Homo sapiens: one gene and its partners. The protein of the gene in region 1 purifies or fractionates together with the protein of each later gene. This does not show direct contact. Each region holds a gene or a part of one and is shown on either strand. Other genes may lie near its edges.

Region 1 (3,500 bases):
CAGCCAAGGGCCCAGCAGTGGCTCCTCTGGGGTCTCCTTAAAAGGTGGCTCGCTGCCCCTGGCTTGCCCCAGGCTATGGGTCGGACGTTCCTGGAGTAAAGCCTGACTTTATGTATTTTATAAAACACAAATAATTTTCATGAGCACTGGTGGTTAACATCAACTCTTTGGAGCTTTTTGTGTTTGTTTATTTAAAATGGAAGCTGTCTCTCATTTTCATCCAAAGAGATTTCTTCCCTGGGGCGGTCAACAAGTCTTGGCAAGTGCTAGATCCCTGGTTTAGTTTTTGCCATAGCTTGGCTGTTACTGCAAAGAAAAGTCCTCTCACTAAGCCCTGTGAGTTTGCATGCATGCCTGTGTGCTTCTGTGAGTGCTGTGGACCCTGTGTGTTCCAATAATGGATCCTGGGGCTCAGTAAACACAGTGGCTAAAAGGACATCTATGCTGATGAAATCGTCTCTGCCTGCAGTGTCCCATACGGTAGCCACTAGCCATGTGTGGCCCCTGATTCTGTAACAGGAGGCTAGTCCAAAGTGAGAGGTCCTGTTAGGTGTAAAATACACACTAGATTTTGAAGGCTTAGGACAAAAAAGTATGTAACGTTTCTTATTAGTCACTTTTATATAAATTACATATTGAAATGTTAATATTTTACATAGGCTGGACATGATGGCTCATGTCTATAATCCTAGCACTTTTGGAGGCCAAGGCAGGCAGACTGCTTAGCCTAGGAGTTTGAGACCAGCCTGGGTAACATGGTGAAACCTCATCTCTACTAAAAATATTGAATATTAGCCAGGCATGGTGGCACGTGCCTATAGTCCCAGCTACTCAGAAGGCTGAGGTGGGAGAATCACCTGAGGCTGGGAAGTGGAGGCTGCAGTGAGCCGTGATCGCACCACTGCACTCCAGCTTGGGCTATGGGAGTGAGACCATGTCTCAATAGAAAAAAAAAAAAATTAGCTATATCAGGTTAAATAAAAGATATTGTTAGAATTAATCTCCCTTGTTTCATTTTATTTTAAAATGTGACTACTAGCGGAAAGGCCTGAAATGTTGTGGTTCTAACTTCAGGGCCTTTGCTCTGTTGCCTCTGCCTGGAGTGCTTTTTCTTCTGAGCTTAGCCTACCTATTTTTCCTTGTCGTTTGGGTCTCAGCTCAAAGGTTATCTATTTCAAGAGGCCCTTTTTATTTTTATTTATTCACTTTCTTAGAGACAGGGTCTCGCTCTGTCACTCAGGCTAGAGTGGAGTGATGTGATCATACTTCACTGCAGCCTCAACCTCCCGGGCTCAACCAATCCTCCAGCTGAGGCTGGAGTAGCTCCAGAGCAGCTGGGACGATAAGTGCATGCCACCATGCCCAGCTAATTTTTAATTTTTTAGAAATGGGGTTTCAGTGTGTTTCCCAGGCTGATCTCAAACTGCTGGACTCAAGTGATCCTCCTGCCTTGGCCTCCAGAAGTGCTGAGATTACAGGCATGAGTCACTGCGCCTGGCCCAAGAGTCCCCTCTTGACCACCCACTCAAAAGAAGCCCCCTGGTTACTCCTAATCCCACCTCTTTACTGTACTTTTTTCACAACAGTTCCCATGGTTTGCTATGTCCTTGTTTATCTGTGTTTATTTTTCTTGTATGTTATCTGGTGCCCCCTCTAGAATGGTAGCTCCAGGGGAACAGGAATTTCCATTATCTGGTTAACATCATGTCAACCAGACACAATGCTTAGAATAATGCCTAGAAGAAGAGGAGCTTAAGCAATGTTTGTTGGATGGAGGGATGGGTGGGTGGCGAGGTGGATGGGTGGATGACTGGATGTGTTGGGAATGACTAAATTTTATTTTTTGGCCATTTTCATAATAGTGATATTTCTTTTTCTCTTCCTTAGGTCTTGAAAGGGGACTATAAAACACCAGCCAATCTGAAAGGATATTTTCAGGTTAGAAACCCCAAGGGGAATTCCGAATTCTGTCTTTCTCAGCTATACCACCATCTGGCTGTATGCCCTTAGATGTGTCACTTCTCCACTCTGGTTGATGGTTTTCCCATTATAAAAAGGGGGATGTGAGCTGGCTGCCTGTAATCCCAGCACTTTGGGAGGCCAAGGCAGGCAGATCACGAGGTCAGGAGTTCAAGACCAGCCTGACCAAAACGGTGAAACCCCGTCTCTACTAAAAATACAAAAATTATCCGGGCGTAGTGGCACACACCTGTAATCCCAGCTACTTGGGAGGCTGAGGCAGGAGAATCGCTTGACCCTGGGAGGCAGAGGTCGCAGTGAGCTGAGATCACGCCGTTGCACTGTAGCCCGAGCGACAGAGCGAGACTCCATCTCAAAAAATAAAAATAAAAAATAAAGGGCTGTGGGGATGCGTGCTGGACCAGAGGGTCTCTAAGCACTGATCCAGCTGGGGCCACATCTCAGTGGCCCTTCTGCCAGGAAGCAGCCTCTCACTTCGTCTTCCGGCTTGAATGCAGTTGGAGGGACTTCGTGGGGACTTTTTCTTGGGCTTTCTTTCTTGTTGAGACTGGAGTGCAGTGGTGTGATCATGGCTCACTGCAGCCTCAATCTCCTGGGCTCAAGCAATCCTCTCACCTCAGCCCCTCAAGAAGCTGAGACTACAGACACACACCATCATGCCCGGCTAATTTTTGTGTTTTTTGTAGAGACAGGGTTTTGGCATGTTGTCCAAGCTTGAGTTGTATTATTTATAATAAACAGGTAGCAGTTAGTAAAGTGTTTTCCCTAGTGTCTTGTGAGCTGTTCTAGTGAATTATCAAACCAGAGTGGGGGTTGTGGGAACCTCCAGATTTGAAGTTGGCTGGGAAGAAGTGTGGATAGCCTGCGCACCCCATTGCAGCTGGCATCTAAAGTGGGGCAGTCGTGGAACTGGGCCCTTAATCTGTGGCAGCTGATGCTAAGTAAGTCTGGGAGCTGGTGTCAGAACTGAACTGAATTGTTGAACACCCAGTTGGTATCCAGATAATCAGAGAATTGGTCACTGATATTGGAAAGCACCCATAAGCCAATATCTGAAGGATTAAAACTAGGTCTGCCACACAAAGATCTGGATAGAAAAGGCTTCCCGGCAGAGGGAACTGTAAACGCCTGAAAGTGGGGAGTGTGGCCGAAACCTCTGGAGTGCGTATGCACTTTTGCATTCGTTGCAATTATATTTTTCTTTGTTTCTACCCCAATGTGATTTACAGGAATGTTCATTGCAATTTTCATGTTCAAACTGCCTTGTTTTGCTTTCTTAATATTTTCCTATCTTTTGAGTTTCACCGGCACCATTTTGGATGGCTACGTAGTGTTCTGTGGAATGCATGTGCTACCATTTACTAAACAGCTTCTTCAAGACCATTTCCAGTTTTTACAACATCCAGAATGACATTATGTGCACAGTGGAGGACAGTAGGGAGATGAGGGTTGGAAATAGAGGCTTGACAAAACTTATCTGCAGGGCAGCCCTCCTGAGCGTGGGGGTATGCCATTCCTTC
Region 2 (3,500 bases), on another chromosome or scaffold:
CTGTGTATTTCCTGCTGTAATTTTCCCTCTGCTCAGAACTCAGACTCTTGAGTTTCTGATTCAACACATTGTTAATACACATTAAAGACTCAAGCATCTAAACAGACTAATTGGTACCTTAAAGCAGCACTTAATACTCTTCAGTGAACTACTTCCAAGTCAATTAAGAGAATCTTCTCTACTAGAGTAATTAACTTTAACATAAGATATGAACTATGTTATTTCTTGAGAATTATGCCTTTCTCCAGGTAGAAAAAAGAGTTGTAACATGTTCTGGTTCTCTTTCGGGTGCTTACTAGAATCAGTTGGGAATTAAAGAAGGATAGGGTCTGAAAATTAGGGACACAGCGTTGACGTAGGCAATTCATACTTAATGCTACACAAGTTTTTGAGTTTCTCAGCTTTAGTTTTCCCAAATGGGAAGTAAGAGTAATAGTTTTTACTGCCTGATCATTGTGGTAAGGATTAAGAGATTGGTTGGTGTGCGGAAACATTGTGAGCAGCTTGGATGAAAAGATGACCTGGCCGCACGTGGTGGCTCATGCCTGTAATCCCAGAACTTTGTGAGGCTGAAGCGGGTGGATCACAAGGTCAGGAGTTCAAGACCAGCCTGGCCAAGATGGTGAAACCCCGTCTCTACTAAAAATACAAAAATTAGCCAGGTGTGGAGGCGGGCGCCTATAATCCCAGCTACTCAGTAGGCTGAGGCAGAGAATTGCTTGAGCCTGGGAGGCGGAGGTTGCAGTGAACTGAGATTGCACCACTGCACTCCAGTCTGGGCAACAGAGCGAGACTCCGTCTCAAAAAATAATAATAATAAATAAATAAAAGAATGACCTGACTGTGGACTGGAAGGGTCTGGAATTGCTAAAGATGAGCCCCTGAGGTATTGCTGCCATGAGTTCCAGATTCGTGTCAGTTTTTTTGGCACCCACAGCAGGAACTGGGGACCTTTGTGATTCCTGGTTTGTCATTTTTCCTGGTGACTACAGAGTGGAGAGTCTTACGTCTTCAGCAAGACTTTGATGTTGTATTGGACAGCTGTGCCTCGTATGTAGTTAAGGAGACAGCACAGTTCACCGCACAAAGAGAGTGTCTCCATCCTTGGGTTTATAAGCTTCACACTTCAGTTTTTCTTTCCTATGCCTCTTCTGCATACAAAGCAGTGGACTTCCATTAAACTTTGTGAGGTGACATTTTCCTAGGTCCAAGGAGGGAGCCTAGTCTAGTGGCAGTAGCCCTGGGCTCAGCTCTCTCAACAGAAATCCATTCCCAGCTTGTCTCTGACCTCAATAGGGAAATTCCAAGGGATTTGTCCATTTTTTTTTCCACATTCTCTCTTACCAGATCTCCCCAGAGAAGCCCATTGTCAGGCTTGGGCTGGGAATCCAGTGAGTCACTACGCAGAGGTTTTGCTGACTTACTGGCTGAGGGCAGGATGATACATTGAGAAGAGATTGCTTACAGGAATGAATACAACACTTTGTGAGGAAAGAGGGGCGCTAACTACCATTACAGGCAGAATTAGATCCATTTGCATCTGCCCCCTGCATGGCCTCTCCAACGGGGCCATGAATATGCTGGAGGTGTTTGTGTCTAGCCTGGAGGAGTTTCAGCCAGACCTGGTGGTCCTTTCTGGATTGCACATGATGGAGGGACAAAGCAAGGAGCTCCAGAGGAAGAGACTCTTGGAGGTAATGGCACTGTTACAGAATTTCACAGATCTCAGCTGGTGGTTTTCTTCAGGTTCCAGCCTCTCTTGGCATCTGCTGCCTTGTTTCCTGTGGAAACAGCAAGCAGCTCTGCACGGTTCTTCTCATCCTTGCCTTGCAGAAGAGCCTGTTTATTTTTGCCTCTGTCACTTCCTGAAGAAATCAGTGTATTTTCAATACAGTGTGGCTCCTTTCTCCTAGGTTCAGTTAGGTCGTGTTTCCTAGCAGTGTCACTATTCAAGGGTTGAGTCCACGTCTTGCTCTCTGGAGAATGTCAATGTAATGTATTTTTCCCATCGTACAGAGTCTTTGTTGATTTGCAAAATGTTGGATTTGGGGTTCATACCCATATTTTTTGTTGTCATGGGCATTTAGGTCATCAGTCTGTTCTCTTATTTGCTTGTTCTTTTGTTAATTCATTCCCATGGCTATATGCCAGACACAGCATGATGCAGAAGGAATACGACAGAGGATGACACAGGCCCTGCCCTCAGCTCACAGTTTACTGCCAGAGATAGACACTTGGAAAAAGTAATTGCAGGCCGGGCATGGTGGCTCACGCCTGTAATCCCAGCACTTTGGGAGGCTAAGGCAGGCAGATCACCTGAGGTCAGGAGTTTAAGACCAGCCTGGCCAACATGGTGAAACTCCGTCTCTACTGAAAATACAAAAATTAGCCAGGCGTGGTGGCGGGTACCTGTAATCCCAGCTACTCGGGAGGCTGAGGCAGGAGAATCGCTTGAACCTGGGAGGCAGAGGTTGCAGTGAGCTGAGGTCGCGCCATTGCGCTCCAACCTGGGCAACAGAGTGAAACTCCATCTCAGAAGAAAAAAAAAAAAAAAAAAGGAAAAAAGAAAAAGGAATTGCAAAATCATGTGCCTCAGTCCTGTATTAGGGTACAGTGGTGGCCCCAGAAAGGAGGTAATCAAGTCTGCTTAGGGGTGGTAGGATTAGGAAAGGCTTCATGTTTAGGGAGGAACTAGCACTTGAACTTGGGTCTTTAAACAGTCATTCCTCTAAAGCAACTCACATAGAAGCAACTGGAGCAGCTAGATAGTCTGATCCTTTGGATCAGGTGCCCAGAAACCACTGATGGGCAGCAGGGAAGAGGAGATGCAGTGAGCTTGGCTGTTGGGAAGAAATTCAGCCTGCTTAAGTTCCAACTGAATGAAAGATGCTCAGGGCAATGCTGTGAGGAAGAATGTGCTTTAAACAATGACAGCCTATACTGTCTGCAGGGCGTGCGTGCTGCACACTGTATGCTGGTATTTGGAAGTCATGCTGCCATTCTGTACTGTCTCTCCTGTGTTTGAGAGCTCAAGTAGGGCTCTCCTGGGACTCAGGGGGAGCTAATTACCTTGAAAAAGGCATATAGCACCCATACTATGTTTCTGTTTCTTGGCTGGGTTTGGGTTTAGGTTTTTGGTTTGTTTCTTGCAGTGCCATGCTGACCTTAGGCCATTGTTGCTGGGGTCTCCTCAGCCAGAAACCAGCCTGCTTGGAGCCAAGGCTCCTGTGAGGTGCCTGAAAGTGCCCCCACAGCTAGGAGACCTAAAGCCTCTTCCTTTTCTTCCCATTGTGTTGACTGGGTTTTTCCAGGGGAGGAGTGGGGCCAGTTAAAAGCTCCCCATGCCAACCGATTCATCTTCTCTCACGACCTCTCCAACGGGGCCATGAATATGCTGGAGGTGTTTGTGTCTAGCCTGGAGGAGTTTCAGCCAGACCTGGTGGTCCTCTCTGGATTGCACATGATGGAGGGACAAAGCAAGGAGCTCCAGAGGAAGAGAC
Region 3 (3,500 bases), on another chromosome or scaffold:
CATTGATTGGTCTTAAATAAGCTGACTAATGTTTATAATTTACATTGTTGACACTGTTACCTAAATTCACCTTTCCACATTTTAGATGAAGTTTTGGTATCTAAAATGACTGCATTTTTTTTTTTTAACAAAAATCAGACTTAATTCTGTTTTGCTGATCTGTAACATCTTGAATTAAGGGCTAATCACAGAATTCTGTCTAGTTAGAAATGAATAATGGAGCATGAGACTCTGTTCCTCTAAAGTAAAAGATTGTATATCTCTGACTTGTTCTTAGTACCTGTCTTTCAATGTTTAGTGCCTCTTAGGTCTAAATTTGATGGCAAGGATAATAAATAGTTACAAAAACAGCTCCTATTCTTCTATGATAAATGGCAGTTTCATTTCCATATTCATAATGGTATGTCTAGATATAAAAATGAAGATTCTCAGTGTTATTTATATGAGACCTCTTGGGGCTTTATAGAAATTTGTAAGATTTCAATAAATATTTCTATGTATATATATAAGTTAAATACTTATTTTCTGATGGACATTTTGAAAAACCAAAATTGTATCTTGTGCTTGTACTAAATTTAAGAGTTAATTTCTAATCTGTTATTTTCAGGTTGAAATGCCCAAAATGACTGGAATTGAAGCCTCAAAGTTTTAGTATTTGAGTTTTCCTTAAAACAACAATCACATAAGTGATTCTTTTGAGAATGTATACATATTAGAAAAGTTGTTCATATTCCCATTCATTTTAATAGCTTGATTTTGAAGTCTGATTGTGGATGATTAAATGGCAGTAAAGTTACCTAAAGTTATTGTGGAAAGATATCCTAACTACATTAAGTATTATAATGGTAGTAAATTTACCAAAATGATAAATTTGCCATTTATTTAAAGAAACATAGCTTTGTAATAACAATTTGTTCTTAACTAGGTTAATTTTTTAAATTTATAAACAATAAAATGTATACTTCTTGATATGCAGTTCATTAACTGGATTGATTTTTAAGGTGAAATTTAAAGTGATGTATTAGTTGACAAGTCATTTACCTTGATTTAAGGTGTAAAACCTGATTTTATTTAATGCCTCAATTTAAATGCATTTTTATTAGTATAAATAAGATTTTTAGTTAAGATTTCTATTTGTTTTTAGTTATTTTCCTTAAAAGATTTATATCTCTTAAAAATCTTCATTTTACATAATTATCCTTGTGTCACAGATTTAAAATGATAGTAATTTAAAACAAGCTGGACTACTTATCTCCAAAAAAAATTTTTATAAGAGTTTTAAATTGTGAGCAGACACTTCAGAGAATACTGAAGGTCAACTGAAAGTTGACCCTAAGTGAGAAAAGAAAAAAATAAGATACAGAAAGAGACTACCCCCTGAGGTAAAGGGATATGTATGGAAATACATACACTGAAATTTAATTTTAAAAATTCATAAGGACATTATCAAAAAGTTTGCAATTTATGGCCAGGAAATTAATTACAAAATAGATAAACTGTTTTTTTGATAACCAACTCAGTAGTATGCAGTGGCCAGAGGATGTTCATTATTTACCTTTGGGTTGATTTTTTGTCTTTGAAATATCGTTATCAAAATCTAGAAATAAACTAGTTAATTTGAGTTGATGGAACCTTTTTGTTTTATAAACATAAATGGACCTCATTATAAAAGATAAGGAAAATGCTACATAATATTGTGCTTGTTTTTAATTTTGATGATTTTCAGCTTAGAGTATCAGACTATTCCTTATTTACTTAATAAAAGTATTACAAAGATCTCATGAGATGTAATCTTTAGGAAAGGTAAAATGTTTAAAATGCTCTAACTATTTAAGATGGTATTATTACATGTATCCCTATAGTCATGAGCCCTGCTTTTTGTCTCTGGGTATTGAGAAATATCCCTGGACTTCTTTTCTGAGTTATCACCACAACGTTAAAGTGTGGCCAGACAGCAAAGAGCCATTTCATTCACTGTTTTTCTTTTAGAGTGGAAGAGCCTTGTCAGTAATTTCTCAGTAGCCCTCCCAATATTTTGTGTATTGTCTCCTTAAGAGGAAGATGCCATATTTTTGGCATTGTTTATTACCTTTTAATTCACGTTTGTTAAGCTAAAAAGGCAGCTCTTAAGAATAAAGAATGTAGATATACAATTAAATCATCTTTTGGTTTAGTCAGAATACATTTTTTCTGTAATAACTTTTATCTGTTAATACCTTTATTACTAACTGAAGCACTAATGTGCAGTCACTTGACTTTTGCCGCAGTTGTTTAATCATAGGTTGAGGCTAGTCTTAGATAAACAGCTTTGTGATTGGTTTATGGCCACATTTTACTTTCCCCAAGTAGTTAGAAATGATGTATAATTGTATATGGCGCTTTTCATTTTACAGAGTACTTTGTCATACAAACAAGTTTAATCACCCAGGCCCCTCAAAGGCAGGTACCTTTAGCTCCGTTTCACAGATGAGATGTATGTATAACTTTTGATTTCATCAATGTCTTATTGCTGATAAATAATGGCCAGGTTATATGGTTTGGTTAAATTGGTAGTAAAGGATGGCAGCAAAAGCTCTGAAAAGAGAATCAGAATCTAGGTTCTAGGCCTAGTTCTACTGACTAGCTTTGGAATATGGCTTAATTCATTTAATTTTTTGTTAAGAATGAGGCACTTGTACCAGATGCTATCAGTTTTACGAATCTGTGATTCAAAATTTGATTAGAGTTGGAGATTATACATTGTTCTGAATGTTGGCAGTTTATTCCTAAGAAGACAGCTAAGTATTTGTTTTCAAATTATATGAAAACAAATTAATGAAAATTTCCCAAGTGAGAATATGAAGCTCATATTGTAATCGTCATTGAGGAACTGATTAGAAAAAATATAAATGTCTGCCAAAGAGCTCTGTACTCCCAACAGGGTTAAGATACATATACGGTTTATCTCTAATTTTCTAATTTACAAATTAAAATAGAGAGCTTAATGTGGAAGATTAGAGGGCTGAAAATATTCTATTCTTGCTGGGGTAAGTTAAGTGACAGAGTTTGGTAATTCTCTTTCCACTACTTAACCTCCAGGAGGAGGTTACCTTGTAGTCTTATACAAGTAGCAGATGTGGAATTTGAAGTTTTAGTTTTTTTATCCAGTGTCATTAAGGTACATTAGGAGTAATTACAAGGTAAATGTTCTATCTTATATGAAAATGCTGAAGGCACTCAGTTATGCATATGCATGTTGTGTTTAATTATAACACTGTAGATTAATATATGTGCAGTGTAAGTACCAATTCAGGTTTATGGTTTCCTCCCTGTGGAATAACGTGTTCTAAATTCTAAATAACAGATTCATAAGTGCTTTTCAAGTTTATGTAATAATTTTTAAAGTCTGCCATTGTGACATACCTCCCCATTTTCATGTGGAATATCACTCAAGGAAGCTAAAATCTGGGAATGTGGAAAATGTAAAGGCCTTTTAATTGGGCTAGAAAGAATAGTATAAA
Region 4 (3,500 bases), on another chromosome or scaffold:
CTTCCTGCATCTCATCTGCGAGGATTTTTCAACAGCAGTCTTCTCTGTTGGGCAGAAGCTCTGGAGGGGAGGGCCCTCATCTGTCTGGGGTCACCACTGTATCTTCAGGGCCTGGCGCAACACCTGGTACTCAGCAAGCACTGGATAAACGTCTGTTCAGAAAGGAACGTGTATTGTCCTCATCTGCAGTGCCTCCCATACCCCTCCGCTGCCTGGCAAACTCCTACCCAACCTTTAAAGCCCATCTTAAATATCCCTATGTGAGGCCTGCCAAGACTCTCCAACAGTGTTCTGTGTTCCTGCAGCCCTTGAGCTTCTCTTACAGTACTCGTCAGGATGTATGAAAACACCTGCTTACACGTGTGTCTATCCAACACTGCACTGCCAGCTCCACCAGGGCAAGAACGTAGCTCATTCCCCTACGTTTCCCAGAGCCTAAAAGCAGAGTCTGCCTCATGGCAGTCACTCAGGAGTGCCAGGCTTTGAAAAGTATTCGAGAAGGCCGGCATGGTGGCTCACGCCTGTAATCCCAGCACTTTGGGAGGCCGAGGCAATTGGATCACTTGAGCTCAGGAATTCAAGACCAGCCTGGCCAACATGGCAAGACGCCGTCTCTACAAAAAATACAAAAATTAGTTGGGCACGGCGGTACATGCCTGTGGTCCCAGCTACTCAGGAGATTAAAGGTGGTGGGATCACTTAAGCCTGGGGGCAAAGGTTGCAGTAAGCCGAGATCATGCCACCAGCCTGGGTGACAGAGCAAGATCCTGACTCAAATTAAAACAAAAAAACAAAAATGAAGTGACTTGCCCCAAGGCCTACGGTCAATCATTTGTGCAGAAGCAGGGCTTAAATTCTGGCTGATCTCAGCACCCTCTCCTGTGCGCCATGTCAATGCTGCATGCTTGACATAGATTAACACGTCCCTTGCAATCCTATGATGGGAGTTTTACAGATGAATAAACTGAGATTTCGAGGTTAAGCAATTTGTGCCAAACTACACAGTAAGTGGCAGTGTCTGCCCAGAACACTCATTGCCTTCAAGGGTGAGCTCTTTGGACTTTGTATCCACAGGGCTGAGCTTATAATGAGTTCATTTCCATTCTTGGTTCACAATGAACTTTCTTTCTAGCAAGCTCAGGGTATGGTAGGGCTCAGAGAGCCCCAGCCTGCCAGGGTGGGTTCTATCTCTAGCCTCCTAGAAGGCTTGTGTTGGCCTCATTCACAGCCTTCTTGGAGCGTTTCACAGTCCAATTTCCAGCATGGACTTATCCACTAGGCCAGCACAAGACACCACATGGGCCCATCCCTGGCCTCCCTGGGTGGCCTCCTGGCTCATCCCGTGTGTGGCTTACATGAATCTTATAGAGCAACATGGAGAAGTCTCATCTTGAGCATCCAAAAGACCTCAGGGGCCTCATATCCTGGCTTCTCATAAAGGCCAGTGGAAAGGCCTCCCAGGAGACCATTTATTGCCCTACTATAAAACTGGCTTCCACTGGGGCTCTATGTACCAGCTTTGTAAACCTGTCTCTTGATGGCCTTAGAAAACAGCCTCCCAGAGGGTTTCAAATGGGCTATAAACCTGTTCTCTGCAATGCAGATTACGGGCTTTGTAAATTGGTGTTTCAGGGTGACCTTATAAAACGGCCCCTCACAGGGCGCCTATCAGCCTTACCAAGCCAGCTTCTCAAGGTGGCCTCACGTGTGCGGCTTTGTAGCCAGGTTCCCCCAGTGGCCCCGTGTCTGCTTTGTCACCTGGCCTCCCAGGGTGGCCTCATGTTTGGTCTTCATAGGCGGCCTATCTGCTACTTTGCAAATCGGCCTTGGAGACCTCATGTTGAAGGCCAATGGACACAGCCTTCTGGGAAAGATGGCCTCCTAATACTGTGAGTTGGCTGTACAAAACTATCTGCTCTTGGCCACATGAAATAGCCTTATGATTATTCTTTAATGCAGAGTTCTTCAATGAACGGCCTTATCAAAAGGCCTTCAGAGATACTTACGTTGACAATATATGATGGTTTTCCAGAGACAGAGGCTTCAGGATGGCTGTATAAGTTTGTTTTCAAAATGGCTTTTCAGATTGCCTCTGTATAAGCCACTTGAAATGGCCTCCCCAAAGGCCTCAAGATTATTATACACTATCCCCCAGCAGGGCACCTATAATCCCAGCTACTCGGGAGTCTGAAACAGGAGGACTGCTTGAGCCCAAGAATTCGAGACCAGCCTGGGCAACATGTAAAGACCCTGTCTCTAAAAACAATTAAAAAATTAGTTAGCTGGTCATGGTGGCACACACCTGTAGCCCCAGCTACTCCGGGAGCTGAAGCAGGAAGATTGCTTGAGCTCAGGAGTTTAAGGCTGCAAGTGAACTGTGTTTGTGCCTCTGCACTCCCATCTGGGTGACAGAGTGAGACCCTGTTTCAAAAAATAAAACTATAGCCTCCTACAAGGCCTTATGTTGGCAGCATGGTGAAGTGGCATTCTGGCCGCATCAGTCTTCTGCCTTGTTGCATAGGCTTCCCCAAACCTCTCATGATTTGGCCTTTTATGTAGTTACCATATCAAACAGCCACATCCTGGTATAGGAAGCAGTCTTCCAAAGCAGTTTTGTGAGATGGAGTCTTGCTCTGTCACCCAGTCTGGAGTGCAGTGATGCGATCTCGGCTCACTGCAAACTCCACCTCCCAGGTTCAAGTGATTCTCCTGCCTCAGCCTCTGAGTAGCTGGGACCACAGGCACGCATGCCATCACGCCCGACTAATTTTTGTATTTTTAGTAGAGACGGGGTTTCGCCATGTTGGCCAGGCTGGTCTCCAACTCCTGACCACAAGTGATCCACCCACCTCAGCCTCCTAAAGTGCCGGGATTACAGGTGTGAGCCACCACGCCCGGCCCTTGTAACTTGTTTTAAAAACTGGCCTTCCTATAGATGGGGGCTTGTCTGAGGACCAGGTGAAGTCAGATTTTGTCTTAGTTTTACAAATCGATCTGTGGTTTCTTCATTGTGCCAGGAAAGAATTGTTTGTTGTGTCCATCTACCCCGCTGGGAGCAGCCTCACATTGGCTCCTGTTAGCCATGCAAAATGGCCTTACAGAAGGAGTCTTGGTCTGGCTGGGGAAACACTCTCTTGCTGGCTGTATGAAACAATCTTCCAGGGTCACTGGCCTCATGGGCTATGAGAAGCAGCCTTCACACCACCAACCACTTGAGATGGCCCTCCTGGGAAGGTCAGGTGCGAGCCACAGGTCACTGCCTTTCTGAATGGCCTCAGGTCCAGGCTCATCAGCCTTCTGGCATTTCCCATATACTGGTCTGATAAAAAGGCTTCTTGTTGTATCAAGAGGTTTTCTAGAGGAAAGGACTAGCCAGAGTAGCCTTATGGCCTGGCTTTATTGATTGGCTTCCCAGAACTCCTCACTGAATTGCTGTTTATAAAGTCTTATATTAAGGCCACGTGCATCGCTCACGCCTGTCATCCTAGCACTTTGGGAGG
Region 5 (3,500 bases), on another chromosome or scaffold:
ATGTAAATACACACATAGGCACCCACATGTATCTCTTCATACACCTGTTGGATTATTTTCTTAGGATAAATTTCTAGAAGGTAATTGCTAAGGAAAAGTGTATGACTATGTTAAGGTGTTTCATGAGTACTGTCAGATTATCTTTTCGAAAGATTGTATCAGTTTAACTCTTACCGTTAGTAAGAACTACTGTTTTTCTAAACTTTCAACATGACTGAGCATTACTATTTTTTTTTAATCTTTGCAAATTTGGTTGATGAACAGTGGTATCACTTAGTTTGAATTTCTTTGATTACTAGTGAAACTTAGTATTTAAAATTTATGTGTTTTGGCTTGTTTATTTCTTTTGTGAAAAGCTGATCAGTATCCTAATTTTCCTGTAGGGACTTTGATTTATTTTTTTCTTTCACTGATTCAAAAGGAAAGATATGTCATTATGCCTTATACATCTTACTTCATATATTTCAAGACGTATATTTTACCCAGTATTGAAATTGGGATTCATTTTACAGTTGACATGTAATATGAAAGTGGTAGTGTTCCAACTCCTACTTTTTTCTTGAAAAGCTACTGTAATATTAAATCAGTGACATATCTTATAGTATCTTTAAAAGTGGAGAGTTCAATATGTTATAATTGACTTTTTCCAGTATTTTTTGCCATTTAACTTCGCCATGTGGAAATTATTATCATTATTATTTTTATGTAGTATATTAAATGTTTTTTTTTTGTTTTTTTTTTTTGAGATGGAGTCTTGCTCTGTCGCCCAGGCTAGAGTGCAGTGGTGCGATCTCGGCTCACTGCAAGCTCCGTCTCCCAGGTTCATGCCATTCTCCTGCCTCAGCCTCCCCAGCAGCTGGGACTACAGGCACATACCGCCACGCCCGGCTAATTTTTGTATTTTTAGTAGAGATGGGGTTTCACTGTGTTAGCCAGGATGGTGTCGATCTCCTGACCTTGTGATCTGCCCTCCTCGGCCTCCCAAAGTGCTGGGATTACAGGCGTGAACCACTGCACCTGGCTGTAAATGTTCTTTTTGTGTTTTCTATTTTGCTCTTATGCTTAGAAATGTTTTCCTTTCTTGGGTTTATATAAGTGGTCACTTATATTTTCTTCTAGTTTTTTTTGGTGGTTTCATGTTTTACATTTGAACATTTTAATCTACTTGGAGTTTCTTTTGGTGTATGGTGTGATATGTGCAAAAAGTGTATGTGTGTCTATCTGTACATATACATATATACATATATTTGTGTGTGTATATGTGCGTATATACAGACACAGACACACACATACACACACACACATATTTCTCTTGGCCTCACAGAGGGGCAGCTATCCTAGCTCCATGTAGTAAATAATCTGTTTCCCCCAACCGACTGAAAATGCCAATAATAGTATTTATTAAGTGCTTTTTATATTGGTTCTGTTTTTGAGTATTAACACTTTAATGTTGGGTTTGGGAAAGCACTTCTAAAACAGAGTAGAGTACTTGAACATTTGAACATTTATGTGTATCATAGCCATTTTAGATAAGTTCCCTAGAATAAATTGTGTTTCATATATTTTTACATGCTGTTGGAATTCTTTTGGTAATTTTAGATTGTAATTAAGCCAAGCTCCTTGAGCAGGATGAAGACAATCTTCACACAGGAAATTTTTACTGAGCAGGTATTTCTTTTTATTCTTAGGTACTTATTTAACTTTCTTTTACAATATTCTTTGGGAGAAAACTTGTGTGTCTTACCTTAAGAAAATAATATGGTCTTTTTTCTTTTTAAACTCATGATGATTTATTTCATCTTTGAAACTTTCTTAAAGAATAATCCATTTAAAATACACTTTTAAAACTAGTCATAACATACCAAGGCATCTTTTGAATTTATGTATTTTTGGAGACTTTGAGTAGATACTTAGGAGAATACTCTTAGATGTTGCTGGTAGGGCATCTCAAGGGGTAATTGTTTTAATGTGTCTGGAGAAAGATAAAATGAAGTCCTATTTAAACCTTTAGGCTGTAAAATTCATTTCTAACTAGATTACAGGCTAGAGTCTAAATTTCTTATACTTAACATGTTCTTCTTTAGCCTTAGCACTTTTGTCCATGGATAAGCATAAGGATTTTTTTCATTTCTTTTTTTTTTTTATCTCACTTTGTCACCCAGGCTAGTATACAGTGGTATGGTCATAGCTTACTGCAACCTCTGCCTCCTGGGTTGGAGCAATTCTCCTGCCTCAGCCTCCCAAGTAGCTAGGATTAGAGGTGCACACCACCACGCCTAATTTTTGTATTTTTAGTAGAGATGGGGTTTTACCACGTTGACCAGGCTGGTCTTGAACTCCTGACCTCAGGTGATCCACCCACCTCAGCCTCCCAGAGTGCTGGGGTTACAGGCATGAGCCACTGCACCCGGCCAGTTGTTGCTTTTTTGTGGCTATTAATATCTTTATTTCTATATTTTACTATCCCTCCCACCCTCAACACGCATATGCACATATACTCCTGAATTACAAGTAGTCACACAGCATGTGGGAGAATCATAAGTTATTTTTTGTCTTTAAATTTGAACCAATTGGAAGACAACTTTGAAGAGGGTCTTTAAAAGACGATTAGAGCCTATGCATGACATATTGAGAATAAATATTTCTGTTTATATTTATGTGGTGCTTTATAGTTCATATGATGTTTTTCCAAAAAGAATATTTTCCCCCCATAACAATGCTTTGAGGCAGGTATGGCAGTGTCCTGTTTTGTAGATGTGAAAAAGATTCAGAAGATAAATGACTTCTTCAAAGTCATTGAGCCCAGATTGTATGCTTCAAAATTTTATTTTATTTTTTTACCTTATCACACCACTGTGTATGTATCTATGTTTATAAACAAAAAATTAGGGAATTATATAAATCCCTAAATGTACATTTCCTCAGCATTCAAAGACAATTAAAACATGTAATAATTTATTTTCATCATTCATTTCTAGGGACCACACTTGTATTAGGTGTTGACAGTCTACTTACTAATCTCTCTTTCAAAATAATTTTATATTTAGTTCTATTATATTACTAATGCTATTTTTCCCTTTTAGGTTGTCACAGCTCATGCAGTTCGGGTCCCTGTCACCAGCAACCTGAGTGCCAACATTACTGGATTTTTGCCTATTCATTGTATTTACCAGCTTCTCAGGAGCCGTTCCTTTACCAAGCACAAAGTGTCAATAAAAGTATGCCCCTACAAATAAAACAAAATAAAAGCATGCCCCTACATTTTTATATATATATTTTTTTTCTTTTGAGATGGAGTCTTGCTCAGTCACCCAGGTTGGAGTGCAGTGGTGCAGTCTTGGCTCACTGTAACCTCTGCCTCCTGGGTTAAAGTGATTCTCCTGCCTCAACCTCCCAGGTAGCTGGGACTACAGGTGTGTGCCACCATGCCCGGCTAATTTTTGTATTTTTAGTAGAGACAGGGTTTCACCGTGTTGGCTGGCTGGTGTCGAACTCCTGAC
Region 6 (3,500 bases), on another chromosome or scaffold:
TCCAGCTACATGGGAGGCTGAGGCAGGAGAACAGCTTGAGCCCAGGAGTTCAGTTTGCAGTGAGTTGTGATCACACCACTGCACTCCATCCCGGGTAACATAGCAAGACCCTCTCTCTTACCAAAAAAAAAAAAGTTTTCATAAAGCACTATGTAAATATTAAATACAATAGAAACAATGATTTTTAATTCAAGATAAATAAAAAGTTATAATTTTCCTTTTTAAAGGCACCGTATAAACTTGAGTTCAGACTTCCTGATTACTCCTGATTTCTACTGGGACAGAGAAAACCTGGAAGGACTTTACGATAAAACGTGTCAATTCCTTAGCATTGGCCGAAGAGTTAAGGTACGTATTTTGCACTTCTAATGAGAGAAAAAGACACGTTGTCGCCTATAAGTTGAATATGTTTAACTGCTTGCAGAGAAATATCTTGTTTGACTTCCATTCAAATCTCTTTATATTTCCCCTTCTTGTCCTCTGTACAGTCACTTCAATTTTTTGTGTCAAAGGATCTTCTGATATTAGCTCTACAGACTAGATAAGGTTGGTGAATAAGATGAGAGTTTGGAAGCCTAATGGTCCATCAGTAAGTTCTTGTCAAGTTTCAAGCAAGAGTTCATGACTGCTTCTGATCTGTCATGGTGACAGTGAGAATAGAAATAAATTTAAGAAAGAATCATGTAAGACAAATCAAGTGATGGGTAATAAGAGGCCATGGAGAAGAAAGAATAAAGGATGACTGATGTTTGCCTGGAGGTGACAAGTAGAAAGGTGGAAAAACAATAATGAGAGGTCAGAGAGGGGAGGTGACAGACTAAATCTAAGATATGCTGAGATTAGAGTAGCAACAAGATATCCAATTAGCTCCGTCATGCAGGCATTTAGAAGGGCAGAAGCAAAGTCGGGAAAAGAGACGTGTATTAAGAAATCCCAGCACTTTGGGAGGCTGAGGCGGATGGATCACCTGAGGTTGGGAGTTTGAGACCAGCCTGGCCAACATGGCGAAACCCTGTCTCTACTAAAAATACAAAAATTAGCCAGGCATGGTGGCATTCTCCTATAGTCCGAGCTACTCGAGAGGCTGAGGCAGGAGAATCACTTGAACCCAGGAGGTGGAGGTTGCAGTGAGCCAAGGTCGAGCCAGTGCACTCCAGCCTGGATGACAGAGTGAGACTCCGTCTCAAAAAAAAAAAAAAAAAAAAAGCTGTAGTGATGGAGGTAGACCACATGGGGAAAGAGCATAGAAAACAGAAAATTGACATTAGTACAATGTGTGCACATAGTTCTGTGACATTTTGCCACATCTATAGATCCATGCAACCACATGATCAAGACACAAAACTGTGCCAGGTGCGGTGGCTCATGCCTGTAACCCCAGCACTTTGTGAGGCTAGAGGTGGGCAGATCACTTGAGGTCAAGAGTTCGAGACCTGCCTGGCCAATATGGTAAAACGCTGTCTCTACTAAAAATACAAAAATTAGCTGGGTGTGGTGGCGCGTGCCTGTAGTCCCAGCTACTCGGGAGGCTGAGGCAGCAGAATCGCTTGAACCCAGGAAGTGGAGGTTGCAGTGAGCTGAGGTCATGCCATTGCACTCCAGCCTGGGCGTTGCAGCGAGACTCCATCTCAAAAAAAACAAAACAAAAAGACACAAAACTGTTTTATCACTTTTCCTCATGCTACCCTGTATAGTCACACTGCCCTCCCCCTACCCGGACTGTCCCTAACCCCTGGCAGTGAGTAATCTCTTCTCCATCTCCATAATTTTGTCATTTTGAGGATGTTATATAGATAGTCATACAGTATGTGACTTTTTTTTTTTTTTTTTTTTTGAGACGGAGTCTTGCTCTGTTGCCCAGGCTGGAGTGCAGTGGCTCAATCTTGGCTCATTGCAAGCTCTGCCTCCCGGGTTCACGCCATTCTCCTGCCTCAGCCTCCTGAGTAGGTGGGACTACAGGCACCCGCCACCAAGCCCAGCTAATTTTTTTTTGTATTTTTAGTAGAGATGGGGTTTCACTGTGTTTAGCCAGGATGGTCTCGATCTGTATGTGACTTTTTAACTGGCTTTTTTCACAGAGCATAATGCCCTCAACTTGGATCCATCCAAATTGTTGCTTGTATCAAAGTTCCTGTCTTCCTGTGGTTACTGAAACAATTTTTTGGTATTTCATTTTGATGTTACTTTTTAATATATCTCGTTGCATAGATATTTAGTAGTTGCTCTGGTTATTACATCTTACGTATATAACTTATTACAATCTACTGATTTCAACATCTTGCAGATTAAATGAAGTATAGAATCTTTATTTCCCTAATGGATGATTGGATGCAGAAAAAAAAAAAGAATTCTTATTTCTTTTATATTCCTTTACCCTTCCGTATTTATAATTTTCTTAACTATTCTTCTGCAGACATAGAAAACTTCATCAGATAATGTTATAATTTTTGCTTCAACCATCAAACATAATTTAGAAAACTAAGAAAAGCAAAGTCTGTTGTATGTGCCCATGTTTTTATTCTTTCTGTTCTTTTCTCCTTCTGATCTTCTAAGATTTCTTTTACTGTTTTTTTTTTTCAAGAACTTTATTTAGCCATTCTTTTAAGGTAAGTCTAGTGAGACAAATTCTCTTAGTTTGTCTTCATCTGAGAGTGTATTAATTTTCTCTTCATTCTTGCAGGATATTTTCCTAGAAATAGGATTCTAGGTAGACAGTTTTCTTTCTTTCAGCACCTGAAAAATGCCATGCCACTTCCTTCTGACCTCCATGGTTTCTGACGGAAATCTGCCATAATTCTATGACATCTACATTTTATCTTTTATTATCATTTCACAAGGTCTTTGAGGCTCTGTTCACTTCTTTTCCAGTATATTTTGTCTCTGTTAAGATTGGGTAATGTCCTTTGTTTCATCTTCTAGTTGATTGATTCCTTCCTCTGTTACATTCGTTCTGCTGCCCAACATTGAGTTTATTTCATTTATTATATTTTTCAGTTCTAAAATTTCCATGTTTTTTTATTTGTATCTTCTGTTTCTTTGCAGAGACTTCCTGCTTTTTCGTTTGTTTCAAATGTGTTCAGAATTGCTTGTTGAATCATTTTTATGATGGTTGCTCTAACATCATCTAATAATACCTAACCTCAGATACCTCTTGATATTAGTGTCTACTGATTGTCTTTTCTGATTCCCTCCAACTAATTTTAATACCTCCAGTTTCCCTCATTGCCTCAAGTGTTCTGGCTTGATATACAAGGTCCTTCCTATTGTTTCTGTTTTTCAATCATATTTCCTACCAATCCCCACATTCACCTTGTATCACATCAAAAATAAGTGATTAGCCTGGGAAACACAATGAGACCTCATTTCTACTAACCTTTTTTTTAAAAAAATTAGCCAGGTATAATGGCATGTGCCTGTAGTCTCAGCTACCCTGGGAGGTTGAGGCAGGAGGATTGCTTTAGCCCAGGAGTTTGAGGCTGCAGTGAGCCATGATCACGCCA
Region 7 (3,500 bases), on another chromosome or scaffold:
AATGATATAACCAGAATTTCCATAAGATTTTTGCCATCTAAAAATAGTTTTAAGAAATGCTTGAATGCACAAAAGGTTAACTTTCCACAGAATCTTTTCTACTTCCCCATAATATTGTTTTTAAAAATTCTAGGCCGGGCACGGTGGCTCATGCCTGTAATCCCAGCACTTTGGAAGGCCAAGGTGGGTGGATCACTTGAGGTCAGGAGTTCAAGATCAGCCTGGCCAACATGCTGAAACCCCATCTCTACTAAAAATACAAAAATTAGCTGGGCTTGGTGGAATGCACCTGTAGTCCCAGCTACTCAGGAGGCTGAGACAGGAGAATTGCTTGAACTCAGGAGGCAGAGGCTGCAGTGAGCCAAGATCGCACCACTGCATTCCAGCCTGGGCAACAGAGCGAGACTCCATCTCAAAAAAAATAAAAATAAAAATATAAATAAAAATTCTATAATAGAATTTAAGAAATATTCCCCATAGACATGGATATACTGAAAAATCAGTACATTGTGATGTTGACCTGGATGAACAGTAACTCTTTTATACGTTTGTTTCCCTTTGTCAATATTTGACTTTGACATTTAAAAACACGTATTTAGCAACACAGTTGAAACCACAGTGAAAAATTACTCCTAGGTATATGAAAGTGTTATTATACATATGCATGAAATCCACATAGCACACAGACCTCCATTAAAAGTATACACATCTCAAAGTTCTCTCCCAATACCTGTTCCCACAAGAGATGTTAACATATGACCTTGAATCACACAGGTGACGCTGTCAGCCTGATGAGGGCAGAGATCTATTTTGAAAACAGAACTCGGAAAACTATGGGGCAACACTGCCTTGCCCTCAGAAAGGAAAGATTGTGTGAAGGGTAATCTTTCCCTGTATCTTCAGAAAAAGATGAGACACTTTGGCATCATAAAACTGTCCTTGAAAATGTTACTTCTGATAAAGTGTCGTAGTCCCAAAGACACTCAGACCCAGAAGCTATTGCTGCACGCTATGAAAGTAACCTTTACCATAAAATCTGACTAGTTGGCTCCCTTAATAATATATTGACTTGGCAATGATATTTAAAACTGACACCTCTGTTTTCTGAAAGAAATACATATTTGTGTGAGTTTTATTTTTTATATTACTTTCTTCTTCATCCACATGCATGAAAGTCAAAATAAATGAAAGCTTCAACCCCACCAGCTTTCTTATTTAAAACGAAAAACAAAAACAAAAAACGCTTGAGTCTTGACTCATTTAAATTAACACAGAAAAAGAAAAAATGACAGTATAAGTTCATTTTAAAATGAAAATTATAAGGATAACTGGAATTTTCAAAATCATACTTTTATTCCTGAAATTTTATCCTTAAATGTTACACATGATATATCCAGAACATCTTTAAAAACAATACTTACTGTAATTGCCAGGAGATTTTTCTTCATAAGTAAAATGAAGTTGTAATTCCTCCTCTGACATCTGACAGATGAACACTTTCAGCAAACAGCAAATAATAAACAAAGCATTGTGTGTCTGCCAAATGAAGATGTGGCTAGAAAGACCAAAATCATACAAGAATCAATATTTAAACATAAGCACCATAGTTTATTTCTAGTTCATGATTTCTTCCTGATTTGACAACCGTTTTGTCCATCCTATTGGTAATATTAGGATAATGTCCATATCTTTTAATGGCTCATGATTTATTTCATTGTACCAGTGATATTATGTTTTACTTCATAGTTCATTCCATGTACTTTACATAGTGAATCTACTTAATAAAAATCTTTACTGATGACTGTAGGAATGACTGTTCTTTGTTCTTAATAGGTATACCACGTACATGCGATTAAAAGAGAAGAAAGCTACCAAAAAATTTAAAAAATTGTGGTAACATAAAAAGAATATATGCAAATATGTAACCAAAATTTTCGACGAGGCATTGCCAGCAGCACGGTAAAATACTTTTTATTTGTATTAATGACCATGAACTCCCAAGAAAAACTTTATTGGATTCAATGTAATTTGTTTATAAGCAAGACAATGCAAAATATTTTAATCTTTTCAGAGACTGACATCCAAACATGGTTTTGAAAAATGCTTCAGTGCATAAAAAGTTAACCTTCCATTGATGTAAAGAATATAACGGAAATAACTGCAACAGATGTAGAATGAAATAAAACTCAGACTAAGTCATCATTTAAACTAGATAGCAGCAGCAGTGATAATGGGGGGGAGGGGAATTACCTTCTTAACGATAATTACATCATTATTCACCTTCTTAAAGAATATAATCTAAAGATTGTCTAAAAAGCTGAAATCAGATTCCCGAATCTATAATCTCACCCCAGTGACTTAGACACTAACCTAAAACCTCTCTACCTTTTTTTCTTAATAATGAGAATAATTCCTTCACAGAGATTTTCAAAAGACCACAGTCCATTTCCATCAATAAATGAAAACTAAAATTCACATTGTTAAATATAAAGCAAACATGGTTTAATTAGCCAGCTTACTTCTGACATTCTGCTGAAAGTTTTAGTTCTTTGGTTCTAGAAAGGAAGACCTTAATTAGTGCACCAAGATTTCCTGTTCGAGGATTGTTTTCAACTGCAAGAGAAGAAAAGGTTTTAAAAAGTTAAATTTAAGAACTAAAATCAAAGTGAGCTTATCATAACATTTATAAAACCAAATGTCATATTAAAATTGCTCAGTGACCAACTTTACTGTTAATTTCATACCTAATTAGAGAACTAAGCAATGAGAGAAACTGCTGCTCTTGGTCTTAATTCTGAACATCAAAAACTGATTTGCAAAATGAAAATGATAGAAACAGTACAAGTAGCCATCTTATCTCAGAATCCAAAATCATAAAGGAAAAAATAGTTAATAGACACATTCAACTTACACACTAAATCTTTCTCTAGAAAGGAGATTTTTAAAAACTCAAAAATTGATTATCTATGTCTCCAGTATATAGAATATAATAAACTATAAAAGTTTATTAAATCTAAAACACTCTTCAGATTACAAATCATTTGAATGAAAAATTAAGAAAACATATCAACAAAGCAGTGTGGCTAGAAGGGGAGCTATTTGACCAGACAAAACTTTAAAGAATTTTTTTTTAACTTTAAACGATGGGCATTTCAGCAACTGTATCAGGAATCAGAAGATTTAGTTTCTAGATCCAGGTCTATAATTAACTGAATACTGAATCTCAGACAAATCACTGTACTTCTCCAACCTCAGTTTTCTCATCTGTAAAAGAAACAACAGCTAACATATGCTGAACAACATAGAGTAGGTGCTTTACATGCATTAACTCATTTAATCCTCACACCAACCCTCCAGGAAAAGCACTAGTATCACTTGCATTTCACCGATCCTCACCTGGAGGTTGTTACTTGCTCAAGGAAACATCCTTATCAACTGGCTCAAATCTTTGACTTTAAACTGCTAGGTTGAAGCAACCTCTATAATCAAGAAATTGGACT

Evidence for each region.
Region 2: the proteins of TPST2 (region 1) and ADPGK purify together in Homo sapiens (affinity purification with mass spectrometry; one large-scale study listed by BioGRID and IntAct). This does not show direct contact.
Region 3: the proteins of TPST2 (region 1) and ARHGAP29 purify together in Homo sapiens (co-immunoprecipitation; one large-scale study listed by IntAct). This does not show direct contact.
Region 4: the proteins of TPST2 (region 1) and KDM8 purify together in Homo sapiens (affinity purification with mass spectrometry; one large-scale study listed by BioGRID and IntAct). This does not show direct contact.
Region 5: the proteins of TPST2 (region 1) and INTS2 purify together in Homo sapiens (affinity purification with mass spectrometry; one large-scale study listed by BioGRID and IntAct). This does not show direct contact.
Region 6: the proteins of TPST2 (region 1) and RMND1 purify together in Homo sapiens (affinity purification with mass spectrometry; one large-scale study listed by BioGRID and IntAct). This does not show direct contact.
Region 7: the proteins of TPST2 (region 1) and DYM purify together in Homo sapiens (affinity purification with mass spectrometry; one large-scale study listed by BioGRID and IntAct). This does not show direct contact.

What each region holds. Positions count from the first base shown.
Region 1 is NC_000022.11:26,531,133-26,534,632, reverse strand, and holds part of TPST2 (protein-tyrosine sulfotransferase 2), read left to right. Parts: intron 1-1,887; coding exon 1,888-1,938; intron 1,939-3,500. UniProt on the Homo sapiens protein: Catalyzes the O-sulfation of tyrosine residues within acidic motifs of polypeptides, using 3'-phosphoadenylyl sulfate (PAPS) as cosubstrate.
Region 2 is NC_000015.10:72,756,259-72,759,758, reverse strand, and holds part of ADPGK (ADP-dependent glucokinase isoform 4 precursor), read left to right. Parts: intron 1-1,469; coding exon of another isoform or gene 1,470-1,694; intron 1,695-3,311; coding exon 3,312-3,500. UniProt on the Homo sapiens protein: Catalyzes the phosphorylation of D-glucose to D-glucose 6-phosphate using ADP as the phosphate donor. GDP and CDP can replace ADP, but with reduced efficiency.
Region 3 is NC_000001.11:94,227,585-94,231,084, reverse strand, and holds part of ARHGAP29 (rho GTPase-activating protein 29), read left to right. Parts: intron 1-3,500. UniProt on the Homo sapiens protein: GTPase activator for the Rho-type GTPases by converting them to an inactive GDP-bound state. Has strong activity toward RHOA, and weaker activity toward RAC1 and CDC42. May act as a specific effector of RAP2A to regulate Rho.
Region 4 is NC_000016.10:27,206,526-27,210,025, reverse strand, and holds part of KDM8 (bifunctional peptidase and arginyl-hydroxylase JMJD5), read right to left. Parts: intron 1-3,500. UniProt on the Homo sapiens protein: Bifunctional enzyme that acts both as an endopeptidase and 2-oxoglutarate-dependent monooxygenase.
Region 5 is NC_000017.11:61,893,483-61,896,982, reverse strand, and holds part of INTS2 (integrator complex subunit 2), read left to right. Parts: intron 1-1,599; coding exon 1,600-1,668; intron 1,669-3,083; coding exon 3,084-3,218; intron 3,219-3,500. UniProt on the Homo sapiens protein: Component of the integrator complex, a multiprotein complex that terminates RNA polymerase II (Pol II) transcription in the promoter-proximal region of genes.
Region 6 is NC_000006.12:151,414,127-151,417,626, reverse strand, and holds part of RMND1 (required for meiotic nuclear division protein 1 homolog), read left to right. Parts: intron 1-227; coding exon 228-348; intron 349-355; exon of another isoform or gene 356-546; intron 547-2,078; exon of another isoform or gene 2,079-2,209; intron 2,210-3,500. UniProt on the Homo sapiens protein: Required for mitochondrial translation, possibly by coordinating the assembly or maintenance of the mitochondrial ribosome.
Region 7 is NC_000018.10:49,377,146-49,380,645, forward strand, and holds part of DYM (dymeclin), read right to left. Parts: intron 2,614-3,500; coding exon 2,520-2,613; intron 1,556-2,519; coding exon 1,422-1,555; intron 1-1,421. UniProt on the Homo sapiens protein: Necessary for correct organization of Golgi apparatus. Involved in bone development.